Linked DNA regions of Homo sapiens. The protein of the gene in region 1 purifies or fractionates together with the protein of each later gene. This does not show direct contact. Each region holds a gene or a part of one and is shown in the gene's direction. Other genes may lie near its edges. The genes, in order: UBN2, NASP, CDIN1 and CABIN1.

The links.
Region 2: the proteins of UBN2 (region 1) and NASP purify together in Homo sapiens (affinity purification with mass spectrometry, with the first as the bait; one large-scale study listed by BioGRID). This does not show direct contact.
Region 3: the proteins of UBN2 (region 1) and CDIN1 purify together in Homo sapiens (affinity purification with mass spectrometry, with the first as the bait; one large-scale study listed by BioGRID). This does not show direct contact.
Region 4: the proteins of UBN2 (region 1) and CABIN1 purify together in Homo sapiens (affinity purification with mass spectrometry, with the first as the bait; one large-scale study listed by BioGRID). This does not show direct contact.

Annotation. Positions count from the first base shown.
Region 1 is NC_000007.14:139,255,218-139,258,790, forward strand, and holds part of UBN2 (ubinuclein-2), read left to right. Parts: intron 1-3,270; coding exon 3,271-3,408; intron 3,409-3,573.
Region 2 is NC_000001.11:45,614,982-45,617,230, forward strand, and holds part of NASP (nuclear autoantigenic sperm protein), read left to right. Parts: intron 1-31; coding exon 32-220; intron 221-323; coding exon 324-490; intron 491-1,355; coding exon 1,356-1,412; intron 1,413-1,644; coding exon 1,645-1,722; intron 1,723-2,249. UniProt on the Homo sapiens protein: Component of the histone chaperone network. Binds and stabilizes histone H3-H4 not bound to chromatin to maintain a soluble reservoir and modulate degradation by chaperone-mediated autophagy.
Region 3 is NC_000015.10:36,806,605-36,810,796, forward strand, and holds the end of CDIN1 (CDAN1-interacting nuclease 1), read left to right. Parts: intron 1-1,719; coding exon 1,720-1,849; 3' UTR 1,850-3,640; downstream 3,641-4,192. UniProt on the Homo sapiens protein: Plays a role in erythroid cell differentiation.
Region 4 is NC_000022.11:24,017,779-24,021,351, forward strand, and holds part of CABIN1 (calcineurin-binding protein cabin-1), read left to right. Parts: intron 1-3,573. UniProt on the Homo sapiens protein: May be required for replication-independent chromatin assembly. May serve as a negative regulator of T-cell receptor (TCR) signaling via inhibition of calcineurin. Inhibition of activated calcineurin is dependent on both PKC and calcium signals.

The DNA of each region.
Region 1 (3,573 bases):
TAGCATTTTTAATATCTCCTTTTATAGCATTTAGGATATTTTCATGCTGACTTTTGTAACCCATAATTGGCTTATATATCAACTTAAAGGGCATGACTGGTATTTTTAAAGAAAATGAAATCAAATAGAATAGGAACTAGTACGTCATTGGTAGACTATACAGTTTTTATTGTGTGTGTATGTGTGTGCTAGATTTTGATGGGTAATGTATTTTCCACTTGGGCTGTGGTGAAGAAAAGTGGAAAACTTCTGTTTTAATAAGTCAGGATAAATTTTGTAGATACGAATTGCTTAGTCATACAACTAGTTTCTGAACAAGGTAGGTTCCTGTTTTATAAGAAGAAATTGAACTGAAATGCAGGTTGCGTGACTTAACAAAATAACTTAGTGTCTTTGCCCTTGACATATTATTTGTTTTTTTTTAATGAGATAATTCAGACATAAAACAACTATGGTCGAACCAAATGATTCTTGTTCTTTTCATTTATTGTATTGCCAGTAAGCTTTCAGTGTTGGCATATTGTTTAATATATTCTGAATCATGCACGAATTACTAAAAATAAATACCTGAAAATAAATGCTTTTGAAGATTATTTTTAGTCTCATATTTATGCTACCAAACTGTAAAAGAGCTGAAAGAAAATGTTTTGTTTATTATTAATAAATAATGATACCAGGCATGATTCACACACTTTTATTTAGATAGTCTCTTTTAAATTTCACTAGAACTTTGTGAAGTAATATTGTCCCTGTTTTATAACCCTCCAAATTTGATGTTAAGTGATTTTCCCTGGGTCACAGTAGCTAGTCATAGGCAAAGAATCTAAATCCAGGCCTTTTGATTCTTAAGTTCAGTGTGTTACCTCTTAACACATTCTACTGAAATGACTGAACTAAATATTCACAAAGAGTGTATTCCTCTGAAGAGTGTTCGGATAGGAAAAGCTCAGCAGAATACTGCATAAGAAAACAGACTTTGAGCACATCAGAATTGCCCTGTATACCTGGAGATGAACATGTTTCACTCCCACGTGAAGCTGCTTGGAAGAAAAAGGAATAGTAGCAGTGATCCTTAAATTTTTCTTAGCAGGTGATATATTTAGAATTTACTTTATTATTTCAGAAGTTTTTTTCTTACACCAAATTATCAGAACTAATTTTTATTTCAGATAGTAACCTTTTCTAAATTTATTTTACAATAAATTAGATGGGTTGGAGGCAGCCACTGACTTTGCCATAAACATATGTATAGAATTGCTTTGGTAAGGTGCTTACCTGGCTTTCATCTTTAAAGTGGGAGTAATATTTGCCTTTCTTACCTCACAAGGGTATCATGAGGACCAAATGAAATAATTTATATGAAGAAGTATTGAAAATTATAAAGCATTGTACAAAACAATGTAGGCAAAGAGTACAGGTGTTTTTATCTTATCACAGTTAGTTTTCGAAATTATTACTGTCTTTTCACATTTAATCCCTCACCCCTCATATCACTTATTTGCAGATGGTACTGCCCCTTTTCTGTAAGATCTTTATAATAGTGTAGATGTTTGTAGTAGATCTTTCTAGTAGTGTATCAAGTAGAACGATAAGAAAGTAGTTTTTTTCTTTTACCTTTCTTCAATCATTTTATTTCTTTTTAATTCAGTGTGATTAAACTGGAACCTCTTCATTTTTCCATTCTCCATATAATTGAAAAAGATACAGGTTAAAATTACAACTTTTGTACTTAGCCTTATATTCTTACAGTAACTAATAGGATATGTATATTCCTTGCCCATGGCAATGAAGTTTCCCTAAAAATCTGACTTTCTTAAAGACTAGTTAGATGATGTGAAGAACCTCGGAAGTAGAGGTCTAGAGATCCCAGGTAACAGATATCTTTCTACAATCAGATAAGTTCCTTTTTTCTTTCCTACTTTGAACACCTTCATTTGGTTAAGTTGTCCTTCACTTAGTGTTTGCTTTTTAGCCATCTTTATCAGGTGAGGTAATGATAAACCTTGAGATCTAGCCTTTGGGAACATAAGTGTGATTTAAACAAATTGAGTTCCTTGCTCCAAGCAAAGTACCTCCTCATTCTAGGTCCTCAAGTATGTGCTTTCTGAACTGGGCAGTTGTTTTTCTATGCTATTCAATTCTTTTAAAATATGTGCTATTCTTTTTCTAAAATATATTTGCTATTTTTCTTTCTTTTTCTCTTTCTTTTGAGACAGAGTCTCGCTGTGTCACCCAGTCTGGAGTGCAGTGGTATGATCTTGGCTCACTGCACCCTCCACCTCCCAGGTTCAAGCGATTCTCCTGCCTCAGCCTCCCAAGTAGCTGGGACTATAGGCACCCACCCCACCACGCCCGGCTAATTTTTTGTGTGTGTATTTTTAGTAGAGATGGGGTTTCACTATGTTGGCCAGGCTGGTCTTGAACTCCTGACCTCATGATCCACCTGCCTTGGCCTCCCAAAGTGCTGAGATTATAGGCGTGAGCCACCATGCCCGGCCTAAATTAAATGTTTTTAAAGTTTTCTCCACTTAAAAGCATACGGCTAAGACAGAAAAAATAGTTTCTGTTAAACAGAATGTTGTTGCTGTTTTTTGTTTTTTTAGACCGAGTTTCACTCTTGTGCAATGACGCAATCTTGGCTCACTGCAACCTCCACCACCTGGGTTCAAGGGATTCTCCTGTCTCAGCCTCCTGAGTCGCTGGGCTTACTACGCCCAGCTAATTTTTGGTATTTTCAGTCGAGACAGGATTTCACCATGTTGGCCAGGCTGGTCTCGAACTCCTGACCCCAGGTGATCCACCCGCCTCAGCCTCCCAACTGGGATTATAGGCGTGAGCCACCGCACCCAGCCAGTTTTGTTATTCTTTATAAAATCTCCTTATGGTAGGAAATGAAATTTACTCCTTATCTGGACACTTGGTCATCTTTTTAAACTTGATTTCTCATCAGAACCATTTGTCATTAAGAATAGTAGCAGTGGGAAGGAAGAAAAAGGAATAGTAGCAGTGATCCTTAAATTTTTCTTAGCAGGTGATATATTTAGAATATACTTTATTATTTCAGAAGTTTTTTTCTTACACCAAATTATCAGAACTAATTTTTATTTCAGATAGTAACCTTTTCTAAATTTATTTTACAAACATCCTTATTGCAGTCTGTGTTGCAGTTAGGATTTAAGGGAGATGCTGCCATGGTGGATGAATTTCTTTGACATTTATAGAGTTAAAGACAACAGGATATAGCGGAAACTTTTTTGTTTTTTAATCTAGTATGATGAATTAGTTCCCGCTTCTCTAACAACAAAATATGGAGGCTTTTATATCAACACTGGCACTCTACAGTTTCGCCAAGCTTCAGATACTGAAGAAGATGATATTACAGACAACCAAAAGCACAAGCCACCCAAGGTGAGTTTATCAAACATTGCAACAGTACTGAGAATGTTCAATTAATAGGATTTTTTTTAATGTTACTTGTGTCACACGTGTGAATGTAAGGAAAAGTAAAATACAAACCATTGTGTCATGAATATATAATTACATGCTTTAAAATTAAATTATGTAGATATTGGA
Region 2 (2,249 bases), on another chromosome or scaffold:
ATTTACTTGCTCTTCTTTTTCTCTTTGTTAGAAAACTATGTGCAAGCTGTGGAGGAGTTCCAGTCCTGCCTTAACCTGCAGGAACAGTACCTGGAAGCCCACGACCGTCTCCTTGCAGAGACCCACTACCAGCTGGGCTTGGCTTATGGGTACAACTCTCAGTATGATGAGGCAGTGGCACAGTTCAGCAAATCTATTGAAGTCATTGAGAACAGAATGGGTGAGTGAAGACGAGCTGCTTCATGGTGATGTTGGATCCAGCAATTAACAAGGAAGAAAACAGTTCTTTTTTGAGCCATTACTAATCACTTTATTCTTTTTAGCTGTACTAAACGAGCAGGTGAAGGAGGCTGAAGGATCGTCTGCTGAATACAAGAAAGAAATTGAGGAACTAAAGGAACTGCTACCCGAAATTAGAGAGAAGATAGAAGATGCAAAGGAGTCTCAGCGTAGTGGGAATGTAGCTGAACTGGCTCTGAAAGCTACTCTGGTTGGTTCCGTTAACATTTTGATAATAGCATGTTTGGTACCATTTATGTTAATGTTCTATTTGCCAGGAACTTTTCATCATGACTTGGTTTCCAGGGAGTTGGTGGGCTCATCTAATTATTCCTATCAAGTAATGCAGTGGTTAAGAGGAAATACCCTGGAGCCCCAGACTATCTGGGTTTTAATTCCATACTTACGTGTGGCCATGGGCCTTTCTCTCCCTCAGTTGACCGATTTGTAAAATGGGGATAATACAGGTTGAGTATCCTTACCTGAATGCTTGAGACCAGAAGTGTTTTGCATTTCAAATGCTTTTGGATTTTGGAATATTTGCATCATACTCAACAGTTGGATACCCTTAATCTAAAATCTGAAATGCTCCAGAGAGCATTTCCTTTGAGTGTCAGTCAGTCCTCAAAAAGTTTCAGATTGTTGGATTAAGGGATGGGATGCCCGACCTGTAGTACATATGTGTAAAATATACTTCTGACAGTACTGGAAAAATAGACATTTCTTAAAAAATGTAAGTTGCTATTTCCATCTCCAAGAACTCATTTGCATAAATTAATGAGGCATTGAGAGGCATTCACCACAAATTGCCTGGTTCTGTTTTTGGCACAGACCTTTTTACCCTGCAGGTAGGATATAGAAGATTTAGTTTATTATGTACACTCTATGTATAGACTATGCTCTGGGTGGCTGCTAGACAGGCATAGGTGGGCCAGGGGTAGAACTGGATACTATATGGAGGCCACTAGCATTTCAGGTCTTAGTCAGTTGTTTGGATGGTGATGGGTTCCTGTTACAAGGCTGTGGGCGGCCTGGGTTCTATCTTCAAACTAATTTGGATTTGTCATTTCTCGCAGGTGGAGAGTTCTACTTCAGGTTTCACTCCTGGTGGAGGAGGCTCTTCAGTCTCCATGGTGCGTATTCAGGTGGTTTTTTGGTCACTTACATTAAGTCTCAGTGTTGGCTCATGCCTGTAATCCCAGCATTTTGGGAGGCCAAGGCAGGAAGATTGCCTGAGGCTTGGAATTCAACACTAGCTTGGGCAACATAGTGAGACCTTGTCTCTGAAAAACTAAAAAATTATAAAAGCCTCAGCATTGATCTCATATAGCTTGTACAATTGCTAATAAGGGCTTATTTTGCCAGATTGCCAGTAGAAAGCCAACAGACGGTGCTTCCTCATCAAATTGTGTGACTGATATTTCCCACCTTGTCAGAAAGAAGGTAAGTCTACATGTGGTGTTTCTTTTCTACCGTTTCCTCAGACTCCATTTTTAATCCCTTTCCTATAAACCCCTCCCTATAGTTGGTGCATATAAGACACTTATTTTCCAAAGGTGGTAAGGATTTGTGAGTGGAGACTGTTGTGTTTTGTTTTGTTTTGAGACGGAGTCTTGCTCTGTCACCCAGGCTGGAGTGCAGTGGCGCAGTCTCGGCTCACTGAAACCTCTGCCCCCCGGGTTCAAGTGATTCTCCTGCCTCAGCTTCCCAAGTAGCTGGGATTACAGGCGCCCGCCACCACGCCTGGCTAGTTTTTGTATTTTTAGTAGAGACTGGGTTTTGCCATACTGACCAGGCTGGTCTTGAACTGCTGACCTCGTGATCCACCCACCTCGGCATCCCAAAGTGCTGGGATTATAAGCGTGAGCCACTGCCCTCAGCCAGGGAACTCTGAACTCCTGTTCTGTTTCCTGACTCAAACACAGGAATTCAAACTTGTACAGTGATTACCATTCACATCTCCTCACCCC
Region 3 (4,192 bases), on another chromosome or scaffold:
GCTTCACTGATGGGAAGGTTTGTGGCTTCTCAGACATGGTCCACAGAATCACAAATCTTTCTGTTCTTGCCAGACTTGTTTTGACAAATCTGAGATCATTTGACACTAATCATAGAGCTCTTTGTAAAATAAAGGTACCAATGGTTTATGTTCCAATTACAGACAAGTGTTTGTGATTAAAAGTTACTAAGAAACCCTCGGTTAAATGGAAGCAAGTTCTTCTGCAGGTGTGAGCTTCGTCTTGTATGCATTTGAGCCTGGGGACCCACACACCTGTGCACAGGTAGCCTAATTCTACTGACCCCAAAGGAATCTCTTCTTTGGGGATGCTGAGGAAGAAGAGAACATCTGCAGCTGATAAATCTCAGTGGGCCTGGTGCTCCAAGGCTTCTAATTATACCCAGTTCCTACATCTTCTAGAACAAGATCAAGTGATGAGCTGCCATCTCATGGTTCTGTACCTGCACAGAGGGGAATCCCAAAGTTTTAAATAATCTTGAATACAACTTGGCTACCCCACTAATGTGGATCCCCAAATAAACCAGGCCGTGACATCCAATTGAACTTGTCCCTGTGCATACAGTATCTCGCAGCCCATCCTGTATTGTTAGTTTTGGCAAGTACACTACAGCATATAATAAATCATGGAAGGCAAAAGCTTTTTGGCCTAGCATGGTTCAGCCTGCTGTAATGTTAGAATACAGAAAGCAGTTCTGTTTTTAGACATGCTTTTACTAACCCAACATTCATAATTTATTATTTCACTGTAAAATTCCTGCAACACTACACCAAAAGTAGTGCTGCCCTTTAATTAAGTGCCCTCGGTAGGAAAAACGTGAAACTGATGTGCAAAACATCTCTCTGTGTGCAGTGATTGATAGTGATTACATCTTTATGAACCCAGCCTAAAGGTCTCAACTTCCTGATGGGTGAAGTAGTCCATAGGGCCACTTCCTGAGTCTGCCTGGCGGGGATCAGTCACTGCTAACAAAATTGCAGATAATTCAGAGGGCACAACTTAGAAATGCTGAGGTTTTATTAAGCCCGTAGCGATCTATACTTTGTCACAAGCCTATATGACCTTATTCCTCATTTCCGTAAGCACCAATGACCAAACTTTATGCTGTGTCCACACTTAAAGAAGTTGTAATGCAGAGAGTAAAGGGACCCAGTGTGTCATATGGATGACAGGAGGTACTTCCAGCCCAATGGGTGCATAAGTAGAACAGTATAGCCAGAAGAGGACCATAAGTTGTTGCATTTTTTTAAATTCTGTTTTCAAACATTCTTTTATTTTTCTTAGTTGCTATTAGGCAAGTTTAATTTTTTAAATAGTACCATTAAATGTTAGACTTAAATCCCAAGGCTGGCATTCCCCAGCTCATTCCTGTTTGCACTGTGAATCTGTCCTCCATCAGCTAGGTAGTCACATCAGCCCAAGCTCATAACACCTTACTGAAAGGTAAGATTCAGAGTTTCCATATCTGAAATACTTCAGGTTTCTGGAAAGAAAGGGAACACATCCATCCGAGAAGGTAGTATGTGTGTTATGTGAACTCTTTGGTATAAGTTTGGCTATTTTCAGTCACAATGGTAGCAACCAAAACAAAAATTTTGTGCAGTCCTGTCATTTAATCATCTTATCAGTGCCCCAAGGTGACTTTTTTCAAGAGCTCTGTTGATACCATGTGTGTGTGTTATTTTCTGGTGTTTTTACAGATTTGGGCCAGGCTTAGTCATCTATTGGTATGGATTTATCCAGGAGCTGGACTGCAACCGGGAAAGGGGCATCCTGCTCAAAGCCTGTTTCCCCACGAACATTGTCACCTTATGCCACAGCATAGCTTGACCCTGAAGATCCTGGAAGAGAAGCTGGGAGGAAAAGGTGAATCCGGAAGCAATTTTACTTTCCTGCACTGTAAGATCCTGGCAACATCTGCCCTGAACTTCAGCTGAACTCTTGCTGCCCGTAGTCACACCACTACCTCTTTAGACAAACATATCAAGAGTTTCTGTTTTCCTTCATCCCTTGCTGATGTGAACAGCCAAGAACTACAGACACAACCCACTCATTATCAGCATTTCTGTCTCTGTCAAACAATTAGTTTATAGATAGTCATAATCTTTCTTTCTTCCGGATGGTTTATCCTTGTATGCTGAACAAAAGAAAAAATGTGAAGACTGAAAGGTGTGATTTTTCAATTCTCCTCCCAGTTACCGAATCACCCTCTTATTTTTTTTTCCCTAAGCCTCCGTTCACTGTCTCTCCCTCTCCCTTTCTCTTCATGTGCACTCACAGAGACCCAGCATTGCATTACCATCGTGGAATAATCTAGCGCAAACCTAGGAAAGCTGAAGCCACAAAGTCCAAAGCCACCTTTGTACTCACCTGCAGAGCTCCAGAAGACCTTGATGGCAGCCTGCCTATGCTGTGTGTTTGCTATATTCAATCTTTACGGCTTCCTGACTTCTGTGACAGTAAGCCAAGTGCAAAAATACACTTGATGAGAATTTCCTCTTTTAATAATGTTATTTGAACACCACATATTTTAGATTTATCTTATTTGAAAGTATTAGTTCCATTGTGCCTGGAAACCACACTCCTTTAGATTGGGGGCCGAGAGGCGACAACCCAACATTGAGGAGAGTTTATTTTTAAACATGGCTAGTTGTCAGTATGTACGTGAGCTAGTATTTTTATGAGTCGAGTTTTTTAAAGGCACATTCTGTATACTGCTTAGTATATGCATTTTATACCATGTAATTATAAAACACTCGAGTAAGTTCAGCATTAGAAATGTTTAGCTTTGTATGAACTGAGTGTGCCAGAAATAAACCTGGAGCAATTTTTAAATAAGCAAAATAAAGGAGATTTTTCTATTTGTTCACTTTAATTTATTCACTTTTGTGTACTTTTATGTACTGCAAATCAGATTTCAGTCTAAAGCGAAACATCAGTAAGTTAATAATAAACCTATCTTTTGGGAAGTTGAATATTAATCTGTACCCAAAACGTATTTAGTAAAATATTTGCCCCCGCCACCCTGCCATGCTGACATAACAACTTTTATAATGTTGAATAGATGATATGGGAAATACTAATAACAACAATGTAATTTTTGCAGACAGCTTTAACTTATATACATTGCTTGATTTTTTTCAAAAGACTAAATATGTCATTTATACTTTGTTTATTTTCTACCAAAGAAGGTTTGTAAAAATATGCCTGCTGCTTTTCCTTTTGAAGGACACAAACCTGGTCCCAACATGTGTGGATTTTAACTCTGAGTGGGGTGCATTAAATCAAAAGAGAGAGGCAGAAGATGAAATGCTAAAGAAGGGTCAGGCAAACTTCTGTTTCAGTATAAAATTCATCATGCAGGCTTCTGAGTGAAATAGAATGATTTGAAACCACTACTGTATTGCCTGGATACACACACACACACACACACACACTTTATACAAAAATGTTAAAAGCAGGTTTCCTGGCATGTTCTAAACTGTTTTTTCTTTAGGAATAAATTACATTTATCTGCACAGATGTTGAAAATCCTGTTAAACCCTTGTCAAGGATTTGTTTATTTTACATTAAACAAATTTATTATGATGAACGTGAACAAATAAATTAAAAAATAAAAAAGGTACTTGCGTTTTGTATTTATTCTTTTACCTGCTGCCCTGACATAATGTGTTGTGAGAAGGTATTGGTGTTCCTAGCAAAGGCACTACCTCCTCTTTATGAATGAGGCTTTAAAATCTGGCCCTTAAAAGTGAGAAAGAACCCAACAGTAAACTGTACACACTACAATAAGGTTACAAATTAGTCAAAAGTAAGTTTTTCACACATAAAAACTAATGTGATAATTATACTACTTTTGAATTGGAGCTGTATGGGAGAGAAGAGAGTAATGTTCCCAACTGGAAGCTTAAAGTCTCCTTGGTTTGTTTCTTTTTCTGTTAAAAATACTTGTCTGTGTTCCATCTCTATGCATTGTCTGCTTGCTGGTTTTTTTAGTTTAGACAATATAAACATCAGCCCCAGAAAGTAGACACGGAATGACAACTTATTTTTATTGCTGTCATCATTAGAACATTAACATTAAAGCCAAATCTTGTTTTATGGTGCATTCTGCACACTATGCTAATGAATTATGCAAAGCCAGAAAGCAGGAGCGTGTGTAAAACGTAAAAC
Region 4 (3,573 bases), on another chromosome or scaffold:
TTGCTTTCACCATTTTTTTTTTTTTCTTAGCTTCAGCTTAAAGGAGGCCACCTTTCGACTATTGTAAGTAATGCTGTGTCCCTCAGTTGTAAAACGTTATTTATTTATTTAAAATAGTATGGTGCTCTTGTCACCCAGGCTGGAATGCAATGGCGTGATCACAGCTCACTGTAGCCTCAACCTTCTACCTCAACTGCCCTGAGTAGCTGGGACTACAGATGTGTACCACCATGCCCTGGCTAATTTTTAAATTTTTTGTAGAGATGGAGTCTCTCTGTGTTGCCCAGGCTGGTTTTGAACTCCTGGCCTCAAGCAATCCTTTCACCTCGGCTTCCCAAAGTGCTGGGACTAAAGGTGTGAGCCACCATGCCCATCCTGTTTCTCAGTTTTTAAGAGCTGTTTGTATATTAGGGGTATTAGTCCCTTGTCAGTGGTATATGTTGCAAATATTTTCTCCCAATTTGTTAGCTTTTAATTTTTTTTCTGAGTTTTTAAATTTTTTTTTGTCATGCAAAAATTTTTAAATTTTTATGTAGTTAAATGTATCACTCTTTTACTGTTTGTGAATTTTAAATCATATTTGGCCCTTCTCTACTACGTAATACTAAGTGTTAATACAAAGGTTAAAGAGGAATTCACCAGTATCTCCTTTAGTAGTTGTATGGTTTCATTTTTTATCATTTAGATTTCTAATTCATTTGCAAGTTTATTCTTGTGAGTTATCTTTTTCCAACAGTGAATACTGTTCCAGCAGTATTTAATACAAAGTTCATCTTGACTCTAGTGATTTGAGATGCCATCTTTGCCATATTTTTTATTTCCATATGTACTTGAGTCTAATTCTGGACCTCATCTTTTTGTGTACATATGCAGCAGTACCTCACTGTTTCATTATGAAGGCTTTGTACAGTAGGTTTTAATGTCTGTTATACCTATCCCCCCTTACAGTTTTTTTTTCATTGTTTTCCTAGTCTTAAATTTTTGTTTTTCCATATGAATTTTAGTATCAACTTGTCAATATTATCTTGTCAGTATTTGTATTGGGATTGCATTGAATGTATAAATTAACTTGGGAAGAACTGACATCTTTATATTTTTGAATCCTATCCAGGAACAGGGGATGTCATTTCATTTGTTCAAGTTAACTTTAGTGTCTTTTAATAGTGATTTAAACTTTTTCTTGCACAGTTTTAATTAACTTTATTCCTAAGTATTTAATGATCTTGTTGCTATTGCAAATGGGATTTTTCTCTACCATAATGTCTTCTTTTATGGTTTGTATATATGAAGGCTATTGATTTTTATGTATTAATCTTATATTGTGCAACTTCACTGAGTGTTGTTTTTTTTTTTTTTTTTTTTTTTTTTTTGAGAAGGAGTCTCACTCTGTCGCCCAGGCTGGAGTGCAGTGGGGCAATCTTGGCTCACTGCAACCTCCGCCTCCTGAGTTTAAGTGATTCTCCTGCCTCAGCCTCCTGAGTAGCTGGGATTACAGGCATGCGCCACCATGCCCGGCTGATTTTTTGTATTTTTGGTAGAGACAGGGTTTCACCATGTTGGTCAGGCTAGCCTCGAACTCCTGACTTCTTGATCCTCCTGCCTTGGCCTCCCAAAGTGCTGGGATTACAGGCGTGAGCCTGTAATTTTTGTATTTTTGGTAGAGACAGGGTTTCACCGTGTTGGCCAGGATGGTCTCGAACTGCTGACCTCAAGCAATCCACCCACCTCAGCCTCGCAGAGCACTGGGATTACAGGCATGAGCCACCATGCCCCGCCTGCTGAGTTATTATTGAATAAATTTTATCATTGATTTTGGGGTTTTCCAGGTAGTATATCATATTATCTACAATTAGTGATAGCTTTTCTTTACCCTTTTTTTTTTTTTTTTTTTTTTTTGAGACGGAGTTTCGCCCTTGTTGCCCAGGCTGGAGTGCAATGGTGCAATCTTAGCTCACCACAACCTCTGCTTCCTGGGTTCAAGCAATTCTCCTGCTTCACCCTCCCGAGTAGCTGGGATCACAGGCATGCGCCACCATGCCCAGCTAATTTTGTATTTTTAGTAGAGACGGGGTTTCTCCATGTTGGTCAGGCTGGTCTTGAACTCCCGACCTCAGATGATCCACTCACCTCAGCCTCCCAAAGTGCTGGGATTACAGGCGTGAGTCACTGTGCTTGGCCTTTACCCATTTTTATATCTCTAATTGATTTATCTCTTCTAATTTTATTGGCTAATATTGCACAGGTGGATAGTAGCAGAGATAGTGGACATTTTTGCTTTGTTCTTGATATTAATCTCTGAAATTAATGGACATGCCTCTGAAATAAGGTTTGCCCATGAAATAAGATTTTGGCTTTAGGACTAAGGTGTATTTATATATTAAAGTATCTCAATTTCTGTATTTTCCTGAGTATTTTTTATTATGAATAGATATTGAATTTTGTCAGACTTTCCCTTCTGTGGAGATAATCATGTAATTATTTTTCCCTTAGATGATTACATTGTGTTTTCACATGTGATGTGTGTTTTTTTGTTAGTATCTATTTTTTATTTTTTTATTTTTGATACGGGGTCTCACTTTGTCACCCAGGCCGGCATACAGTGGTGCAATTACTGCTTACTGCTGCCTCAACTTCTCAGGCTCAAATGATCCTCCTCCGTCAGCCTCCCAAGTAGCTGGGATTACAGGCATGTGCCACTATACCCAGCTAATTTTAAAATTTTTTTTGTAGAGATGAGGTCTCCCTATGTTGCCCAGACTGGTCTCAAACTCCTGCCTCAGCCTCCCAAAGTGCTGGGATTATAGGCAGATTACAGTCATGAGCCACCATGTCTGTCCGTTAGTATTTCTTTAAATTTCTCCAACATTTTCATTGCATTTCCTTTTATCTGGAAGTTGTTTATCAGGAGATTCTCAAATTTTTAGATAGACACACCTTTCTTCTGTTGGTGGTGATGGTCGTGTTAGTAAATTCTAGTTTTAAGCATTATGATTGGCAAGTGTTGTTTTTAGTATCTTTACTTGATGGAAGGTGTTTTCTTTGTGACATGAGCAGTTTTTGTGTGTGTGTGTGTGTGTGAATGTGCTGTGAGCACTGGAGAAGAATATATCATTTCTGTTATCAAGGTGTGGAGTTTGATATACATCTATATCATCTCCTCTGTTATGTTGTTTAGATCAATCATCTGTCTCCTCATTTTTTCTCCACTTGATTTGTCTTTAAAAAAATTTTTTTTTTTTGAGACAGGGTCTCACTGTGTATCCCAGGCTGGAATGCAGTGGTGTGATCATGGCTCACTGCAGCCTTGAACTCCTGGGTTCAAGTGATCCTCCCACTTCAGTCTGCTCAGTAGCTGGGACTACAGGTGCATATCACCATGCCTGGCTAATTTTTATTTTATTTATTTATTTATTTATTTATTTTAGAGATGGGGGTCTCACTATCTTGCCCAGGGTGGTCTCGGACTCCTGGAGTCAAAGGATCCTCCAACCCCAGCCTCCCAAAGTGCTGGGATTACAGGCATGAGCCACCAAGCCTGGCCATCATTTTAAAATATTTTTGTAGAGACAGGGT